Homo sapiens: one gene and its partner. The protein of the gene in region 2 interacts with the protein of the main gene of each other region in a biochemical or structural test. Each region holds a gene or a part of one and is shown on either strand. Other genes may lie near its edges.

Region 1 (7,039 bases), on a different chromosome or scaffold from region 2:
CTTTTAGGGATCAAAAGGGAACCAAGTAGGAGAAGAGAGAGGAGCTGAGGTGGACACAGCTGATTAAGAAACAATAAGTTGGAGGGAATCCTAAGCAAACAAGCCAAGGGAGGCGGGGGGGAAAGCTTCTCTGAATTTGAAAAGGACATTCCATTCTAAACTGGTTAAAAGCAAGGATAAATCTCAAGCAGAGAGCATTTTCCTCTGGCATTTTTTTCCCCATCTTGGAGCTCCGGCAACTTCTTTTTCACATTTTATATCATCTATGATACCAAGAAAAGGTCACTATTAGAATCAGTTTTACCTTAATAAGGCTCAGTGAAATAGGCACAGACATAAGATACAGGTGTCACCCATCAAACAGCATGTCTGCCTTTGATTCTATGAGCAGATGTTTTATCAGTTTCCCATGTTCAAAAGTTGGAGACTGTTATTTTACTCCTCTATTCGGATAAACATTTGATTTATTTGCAAGATATGGCACTTGACCCCAAAAAGTCAATAACAGACTTTGAACTGTTTGTAGCTGGTTCATTTTATCATTCAGACCTCAACCCACTTCTTCCCATTTCCAAAAGGAAGCTCTCCCCCAGGACATTCTCATCCTCTCACCAATCACCAGTACAAATCCAATAGCCAATACAAAGCCAAAGCCCCAAACCCTATCTCCAGAGTTTCAGTTCCATTTTCCCAGCTTCTCACAGGGCTCAAGTAAGCATTCTTCTGGGTTCTTGCTCTCCCAGAACCTCAAACCCAACGCCACAATCCATTCCAACCCAGGTGCTCTTGGCAACCTTCCATTTTCTTTTAAGAGCAACACCATTCTCCCAGTCATCCAGGTTCCAAAAGTCACATATGTTTGCCCAACCCCTACCCTCCCTCTCATTGCAAAAGTAATTTATTCACCAAGCCCTATGGCTTCTCCAGCCCAAGGCTAAAACCCTAGTTCCATCTATTCTCATTTCCTCCTGGCTTCTGGGCATCCCACTCCACTAGACCAATCATCCTTGGCTAACAGAAGGCTATGTGCCAAGGCCTCAAACTCATACACCTATAGGGTCAATCCAGTTAGCCTACAGGAACAAACAAACAAACCTGTCAGTGCAAGAACAATAAACAGCAACTAACACCGAGCCTCAGTGTCTGGGAGAAAACAGGATGAACTGAGACAGTAGCAGCCACAGCACACACATCTCCCTCAGACAGACATGGTCAAAAGATCTGGCAGTTTCTTGCAGGAAGGAATATGGCCCTGGGGCTGCCAGAGTTTTCAGTGTTGCAGGAGCAGCTGGACATTTCGATTTTTTTTTTATGAAAATGTCCCCCATTTTTACATGTTAGCAACCATGTTTTTTTTTTTTTAATGTTTTAAATACAGTATCAAACAGGACAGAACTCTGAGGTATACTGAGCTCAGAGACCACCAGTTTTCAACCTCTGCTCTGGTGCACTGATGGTGATGTGGGAATTTACAGCCTGAGTTAAAGTTCAGATGTGTAACCTTAGACATTCATATCACCTCTCTATGCCTCAGTTTCTCCTTCTATAAAATGGGCATTAGAGCAGGTACTTCATGGAGTGTGAGTGAGCATTAAATGAGATAATGAAAGGGGCCAGACCAAGGCCTGCTTTCATGCCTTAACTTCCAGCCTGTCATTCAAAGTAAGCCATAATGTGCCTCTAAATCTCCCTTTCTAAGCTTGCTCCTATGGTGCTCATCTTGATGTGCTCTACAGAGTCAAGTCACATCACAAAGCACTTTTAACTGTGAATGTGCTGTTCCTTTCGGTTGTCTAAGGTCTCGCATGCCACCCTGAGAAGCTGCATCCCAGGACACATAGTCTGAGACTAGTGATTAAAAATATGTGCAACTGCCAGGCACGGTGGCTAGCGCCTGTAATCCCAGCACTCTGGGAGGCCGAGGTGGGTGAATCACGAGGTCAGGACTTCAAGACCAGCCTGGCCAACATGGTGAAACCCCATCTCTACTAAAAATGAAAAAAAAAAATAGCTGGGCATGGTGGTGAGTGCCTGTAATCCCAGCTACTCGGGAGGCTGAGGCAGGAGAATCGCTTCAACCCAAGGTGGAAGTTGCAGTGAGCCGAGATCGCGCCACGGCACTCCAGCCCAGGTGACAGTGCGAGACTCCATCTCAAAAAAAAAAAAAAAATCTGCAACTATCTTTTCTATAACTTGGCCTCTAAATAAAAAACAAGCCCCTTATATTTACTTGCCCCATTCTCTCTTTTTGGAATGTTGCCTATGCTACAACCTATACACATACAGATACCTCTCAAAATAACATCCAATTGGTACCTCTTTCAGAGGCCAGCCAAACAGCCACCTCCTTAAAGGTGTTGGTTGATCCTCTGTAACTTGTGACCAAGATATTCAGAGTTCTGCCACTAATAGTTACATGTATAATTATTCACTCCCTTACTCAAGTGCACCTTAATATTAACTTGACAATAACTGAGCTTTCTATGCCCAACCTTACCTAGAGGAAGACTTGATAAATGCTCAATAAATAAGGGACAAAGAAGACGGGAAAAGATGAAGGAAGAGGAAAGCAAGATTTTAATGATAAGGACAATGACAACAATTAAGCTCTTGTGTCTTTGAATGCAAAGAGCTGTCCCTACTAACCACATGCTTTCATTTTTTATTTCTGAACAATATATGGGGGTCATCTTCCCCACCTCCCTCTCATCCTTTGGGTGTGTGTAACCTCAGCTTCCCCTTATTCCTGAAAGTCAACAACCTCTTCAAGTATAATCTAAATAAACAGGGAGTTAAGTGGCTCCTGCCACCATTCTAAATGAATCAGCCCCACCTTTGATGCTGATGGGGATCAAGATGATGATGATGATGCACACTGGAGCTGGTCCAAATCACGTATTACTCACTTTAATCTGATTTGGAAACAATACACAGAAAAAATAATCTGGCAAGGGAGAGGGGCATAGGGGTAAGAACTTTCTATAGAATGACAGAAATCCACACAAAAAGAAAACGAAAGTCTCATCCAGACTAGCAACTATTCAATAAACAAACTAAGGCTAATTTCCACAATACCTAGAACAGTTTTTTCTCTAACTGCTTATTAGGACCCATTAGCAAGTTGTAAAATCAGTTTAGTATATAAAGACTAGAATTTTTAAAATAAAAATTGAATATTAATTAAAAAGCATTATAATATTTTTGTAGAACTTGTAATTCAGCTTTATTTTTAACACCTGTGCACATGCATATGTGTTTGTGTGTGTACCAGGTCATGATATAAAATGTACTGCTGAGTGTTAAAATGTTTTAAAAATACTGAAATAGAACATTTATGTTTATATAAAGTAATCTCTGCTGACTGAGCTTTTCTGTTTTTTACTAGGCCATCCTCATAATATATTTGTTCTTGCCACCTATTGTTCACAACAACTTGGGTTCTTCAAGTTCAAGATAAGCATATGAAAACTGTATGAAAAATAGCACTGGGCACATGTGTCCCTTACTCCTGAAAAGGAAGGTGTCACTCTAGATAACCACCTACACTTTCACTCCTATGCATATTTCTATCTTGTGTAAGTCCCTGACATCAAGACAAGGGATATTCATCCCTAAGCTCCTGCCTTTATGGTCATGTTTGCTTATATGCATTAACTCACTACTTACAGAGAGTAAATCAAGCACATCTTACTTTCACCCCAAGCGTAGCCAACACTCATCAATAGCTGCAATAGTGGAAGTTTCGGAACTTGGTTTAAAACATCACTCAACCCATCCCTTCTATTCCAGAATGCTTTTTCTCAAGTTCTTCTTATTGCACATTTTCCTCAGTACCCACGTTCCAAACTCTCAAGTATCGTCCCATTTCTAATATCCAACTTTGCCCAAGATCACCCCACCTTCGTTCTCCCCTCTGTACATTTCTAAAGTTCAAGGTTATATTTTGGAGGGCCTATCAATATTCTTCCAGAACTGGCTAAAACGGAATCCCCCAAATCAAAGTAATCTTGCTTTTCGATGGCATGGTGATATTAATAGCCAATCTTGGCTTTCATAGATGAGCAAAAGCACACACCCATCAAGTATTCAAGATGAAAAGTTATATGTGGTATGTCCACTGATTTCAGCCCTTAAAAATCTCTCAAAAGAGGAGTTTACTTTGGATTCCACCCATTTTCCAAAGAGGTCACCTACATTTTTCCACCTCTCACATAAGCATGGCCCACCACTACGTTTTCACTGTCAACTGTTTGGAAACATATGCAACAGGAAAAAGTCAAGAGTAAAGTAATTGATTCACTGAGTGTCTGGGTCCTAACTATAAATAATGAAGGATTCCCTGCTCTGTGGGATATAAAAAATTAGTGAGATATTCTTCTCAAAAATGGAAGCATCACTCTTAAATATAAAAAGAAAGAAAGAAACATATGCTGAAAAGAACACAATAAATGTTTGTGGAATTGACTAAGCACAGGTTACAACATTAAGCACTGAGAAGAGGTATCAAAAGCAGTTCCTTCTACATAGAATGTCTTTCGTCCCCACTTTCCAAACTCATCCTTACGGACCACAGTGACTGGTATCATCTTGTCAGCAATCTCCCTGGTTCCCTAGAAGACTAGGTCCCTTTGCTCCCTTAATATGCAATCATCCATTCATTCTCTCGGCAATTCAAAAACAATTTATTGACTGTGTGGTCTAGGCCAGGCATTGTGTTAGGTGCAAAAGTTACACAAAAGATGAATAAGACAGTCCCTTGCCTCAAGGAGCCCAGGGAGAGAATTTGAAAGGTTTTAAGTTGGTGAAGAGCAATGACTTGTGTAGAAAGAATCAATGGAGGAATGAACAACTTGAAGTCCTTGCCCTCAAAGAGATCAATCACATCCCAGAATAAGAAATGGGGATGATAAAACCTAGGAGACTGTCGAAAGGCAAAATGGCAAAATCCAGAAAGCATTCTTGCTTGCAGTAAGATTACTCTGAGCCTTGAAGAATCTGGGTCCCCCAAAAAGGAGGGGAGTGAGGGGCAATGCAGAGACCAGAACAGCCAGGGTTTGGCCTCAAGATGAATGAGAACTGACCTTGGGTGATCCCTCAGGACACTTATGCTAAAAGTGGTCTCACCCCATCCCCCTCTTCAAAACAACTTTCACCTACTGCACAAACCTCCACAAAATTTAGGAAGACTGAAATTTAAAGTTACTTTCCCAGTCACAGAAATAAAGGCCAAATACCCAGAGTCAACAATGAAGTAACTCTAATGGGCAAAGTGGAATGTTGGTCAGAGAGTGAAACCCAAAAATCAAACAACTGAATAGCCGTGGCTCTGGAAAACAAAGCTCTGATGGATCACATAAGAGCCTTTATACATATAAACAATCTCACATTTCCAGAACTGCCTAGAAGCGCACAGGAATAGTATTCGAATGTGTGGTTAGTTTGAATATTAGGGGCAGAGGGTGTATTTGTGTTAACTCAGAAAAGGAAGCTGCCGAATATCTTATTAGTTAATTTTGAGAGTGTGAGTTCAAGCAAAACTACCTCCCATCTGAACCAAAGGCTGTGATGTGCCAACCACACCAAACTGATGAGGCTCTTTCAAAAGGAGTCTTTCATTTGAATGTCCTTCCAACAGACAAACCCTAGTTTAGAACTTCTGATTCTTAAACTTAACATGGCAAGCAAGAGCATTCTATGGCCAACTGCTAAAAATGAGGAGGTAAATCTTCCATTTGGTTCTTCTGAGAGCTGGAATTGGCCACAGAAAGAAACACAAAGTTTTCACTCCAAAAGATCAAAGAAGGTATTTTGTACCAGGAAACCCAATTCCAAATCCTCATTTCCAGGAATAAAGCCACAGTGCCCGGTGCTTGCTTGGGAAAATAAAACAGGAGATTCTGCGGATTCCAATTAAAATTTCTGATGGCTTTATTTCCCAGCCTCACCAGTTTAATGTTGTTAACATTTCATCCAGGCCCTGCTTTAACTTAAATACTGCTTCCAGCTCTGAATGGTCACACCTTACTACTGGGTAAAAAGGAAGGTGTCTTAACACTTCATGACAGTATTCTTTGCCCCATCCCAAGTGCTAGATATATAAGACAAGGTGATGCTGAAAAGTGCTAGCTTCAGCCCAGCCTGTGTCTCCCATAACTACAGCCAGGTGAAACCTCACTGCAGCCCACACTATTTAGTTGCAATATTGGAAAGGAGAGTAGAAGCAGGAGAAAATAGGGGAGGAGGGGGACATACCTCAACCTTATTCAAATATAACAAACAATGAGCTTGCTTTACAATTATTTCCTGGGGTCTTATCGATCAGCCAGTAGTTACTGTGTGCCCACTGCAAACAAGGCACCAAGCTAAATCTATAGTCAGCATAGTGCAGTAAAATATTCCCTAAGTAATCATTATGTTAATGGTTATGTGTTTAATTTTCTTTATCATTTTAGAAAAAATGTATTGTGTATGTAGGTTATAAAGTCTAAAAATAAAATCAGCACCTATGAACCCATCACCCAATCCAAAAACCAGAACATCACCAACACTGTATCATCTACCTACTTCCTCCATTTTTATTCCAGGTCCCTGCAACATACACACACTCCACATAATCATTATTCTGAAGTTGGGGTTTCGGTGCAAGTACAAACGCATATTTATGACTACCTCCTATTCCTAACAAGTGAGTTGGCTTTCCAAATATGGTAGTAATACATAATTTCCTCTCAAAAAAATGATGTCTTTAGGTTCTTTTCTTTAAGTGAATCATTGCTTTAAAGAAAAATATTAATAGAGTAAGTGGGACTCAGCCATGGTAAACTCAGGAAGACAGTATGTGAGTGAATGAACTTTGACAATCACTGGCAAAAGTGGCCAAGAACATGAGTTCTGAAGTCCTGCAGACCTCTGGTTCAAATCCCCATTCTACCACTGAAATTTGCCAAGCCTCAATTTCTTATTGTAGGACGGTAAAATAATAATAAGACATATGGTGTTTGTGGAAATGTCATGAAAAAGTACCTGTGAAGAGCTGAGC
Region 2 (2,951 bases):
GGATGAAACCTAGTAGCAGTTATTTAAATCAATTGGTGTATCGTGTTCACTACAGAAAAGCTTTCTAAGTATTAAAAAAAAAAAAAGCATCACACTGTTGAAGCACAAGGTTTAAAATTAAGTGTGTTGTACAGTAAGGTTTGGCTAATTGGGGAGCCAAAATACTTAATTTGGCTTAGGACAAAATAAACTGGCCAATTAATCAACAGTAAAAGGAGACAGTGACTGACTTGAACAAAAAAACAGTTGTTTAGTTGGTTTTTTTTTCTTTTTTGGGTGGAGGTATACACATTGGAAAAGGTATTCCGGAACACCTGGATCAAAATGACCTTTGCTAGGTCAACTCCAGAAATTGATCAATCATATCTGACCTGGTACACATAAATTCCAGATCTCCTTCTTAGATGAAAGCTAAAACCAGAGTTATCCTATAGCCAGAATGTGGGTAAGACACTAAAAGATGGTCAGTATACATTTAGAAACTCCACACTGTAAGAAAATTACACAGGCACATGGAAGAATAAGCAAGATCTTGGTCTTGTTTAAAAAAGAAAAGAGAAAAAAAAAAACCAAGCCACATCCTAGAGTTGAGAACAAATTATTAACAGCAAATGGCCATTTGTATAATTAACATGTACTGTCTCACGTTTCCCAGTTAAATTTATGAAAGACACTATTAAATTTCAGACAAAATATATATATTTCTTTTAAATCTTTACAATAAATCAAGATGTAGAAGCTTACATAGGGCACATTTTTGTTTATTTAGGTACTCAATTCCAGCTCCCTTGGATGCAAATAACCCTGGTGACAGTGTGTACAAAGTCTTCTCTTTGCTTTTTATAATTTTAAAAGCAAATAACACATTTAACTGTATTTAAGTCTGTGCAAATAATCCTTCAGAAGAAATATCCAAGATTCTGTTTGCAGAGGTCATTTTGTCTCTCAAAGATGATTAAATGAGTTTGTCTTCAGATAAAGTGCTCCTGTCCAGCAGAACTCAAAAGGCCTTCAAGCTGTTCAGTAAGTGTAGTTCAGATAAGACTCCGTCATACGAATTCCAGCTTCCCGTGCCCACTGTACATGCCCCAGTGAACAAGCGAGAGGATCTTATCGTTGCTGAGGTCTGCTTGTCTCATTTTATCACAGGTCAGACAGCAGTTCTCGTGCCCACTGACCGGCACCATGCATTCCAAGTCTAACTTTGCAACCTGCCCCTTTTTGGAATGGTGTCCGTGAAAGCTGTAGTGCAAACGGGAGAGCATCTGTTGCCGCTGATCCTGCAGCCTCTTATTTTCACTTCGAAGCATCCTCAGGGCCAACATAATAAGCAACACTAAAATCAGCCCTCCAGCAATGGGCACGGCAATGACCGCTGCCCGGAACCACAACTCTTTGGAAGAAGTCAGCTCCTGCACCTTGGTGATAAGGTTTCTGCTACCATCATGCTGATACCTGTTTCCTTGTCCTAAAGGAGTACAAAGAAAATGATCAAACTCCATGCTAACTCCTCCTAGGGATATTCATAATCATCAATTCATTTTAACCAAGAATTCCATTAAAAAGAAGCTTACAATTAAATCAACGATATTTAGAAAACATTGCAAAACTATCTGAAGAAGCTTACAAACGCATTTGTTTACAGACTGTCATTACTGAGATGTAATGGCCTTTTAATGTCTTCAAAATGTTGAAAAAACAGGCAAAACCTATTATGTAGACAGACATCTAATGCTCAGACATAAAAGCCACTCAATCAAGATGCATCTTTGCATCCAGCCAGGCTTCTCCCTCTGGTGTCTCTAATTACATTAACAACAAAATCAATAGCAGACATACAAAGTCGTGGCTGTCACAAGTCTATAGATCAGGCAGGCATTCTGGTTAGAAACGGCTTCCACCTACCTGAGGCCTCACCCCTGGGAGGAGAGAGAACATCGTGCAGCCCTCTGTAATTGCACATGTCTTCATGACAGCATTCCAATGTGGGTATGGTGGTGCCAGAGTGGTTTCGGGCCTGTTTGGCTTGGCAGATGTCTGTCGTGCTTGCAAGAGAGTCCAGGCAGCCATGGGTGAGTGGGGAATTTGAGTTCTGAGGATCAAGAAGTCTAGAGAAGCAGGCGCTGAGCTCAGATTTACACATATAACCAGTGGCTACACAGTGGGCAGCATCACAGTAGCATCGAATTTCACCTGAAAACAATGAGAAACCACCTCAAACTCTGCTCCAGAGACCAGATAAAGCAACTATTTAGGCAACTGCTAAATCCCAAATTCAAAGGCATGAACTTTTAGATCATCCAAGCTGAGGGCTCCAGTCTACAGAGCCTGGAGAAGCCCTTCCTGCAGCCAGTGCGTAAGTTTCAATCCAGTTAAACGTCATTTTGGCAATGTAGTAATCCCAATAGCAGGTTTCTGAGGAGTTTAGAGTCATTTTAAAAAAACTTTTGCTTTTTGAAGGAAATAGTAATGAGTATAATTTCTCCTACCATAAGGTATAACACATTATTTATTCATTTTAATCCTACATGACCATACAACATAAAAATGTTAGGCTTTTTGATTTTGTCAGTATAAATATTTGATCGGAACTACTGAATTGTTTACTATCCCACAGGACTGCACCAAGAGTTAAGAGCTTTAGCTAACACCTTATAAAGTTATTAACTAGAAACACAACAATCTAGAAACTGCCCAGGTCAGGAGGTTTTAAAACTATGAAACTAGGCAGCTATTTGCAACCTCTCTAGAAAAGGCAAACTTTTTGCCTATAAAGATCTTTTCATGCAGAGGAGCTTTTAGTCAGTATATTGTAAAACAGGAACTAGGCAGTTTACAATTAGTGGTTTGCTTGCCAAAGTCAATTTCTTTCAGCCCAAATGGAAAGTCATAAAAGGTGGGGGGAGTATAAAACTGCAAGGCTAACTTCTCCTCCTCCTCCTCACAAGTTT

Evidence for each region. Proteins that work in one complex are often made in the same cells at the same time.
Region 1: the proteins of BAMBI (region 2) and ACVR1 form a complex in vitro, tested with the Homo sapiens proteins (one study listed by BioGRID).

What each region holds. Positions count from the first base shown.
Region 1 is NC_000002.12:157,866,331-157,873,369, forward strand, and holds part of ACVR1 (activin receptor type-1 precursor), read right to left. Parts: intron 1-7,039. UniProt on the Homo sapiens protein: Bone morphogenetic protein (BMP) type I receptor that is involved in a wide variety of biological processes, including bone, heart, cartilage, nervous, and reproductive system development and regulation.
Region 2 is NC_000010.11:28,680,500-28,683,450, reverse strand, and holds the end of BAMBI (BMP and activin membrane-bound inhibitor homolog precursor), read right to left. Parts: intron 2,194-2,951; coding exon 1,906-2,193; intron 1,469-1,905; coding exon 1,050-1,468; 3' UTR 519-1,049; downstream 1-518. UniProt on the Homo sapiens protein: Negatively regulates TGF-beta signaling.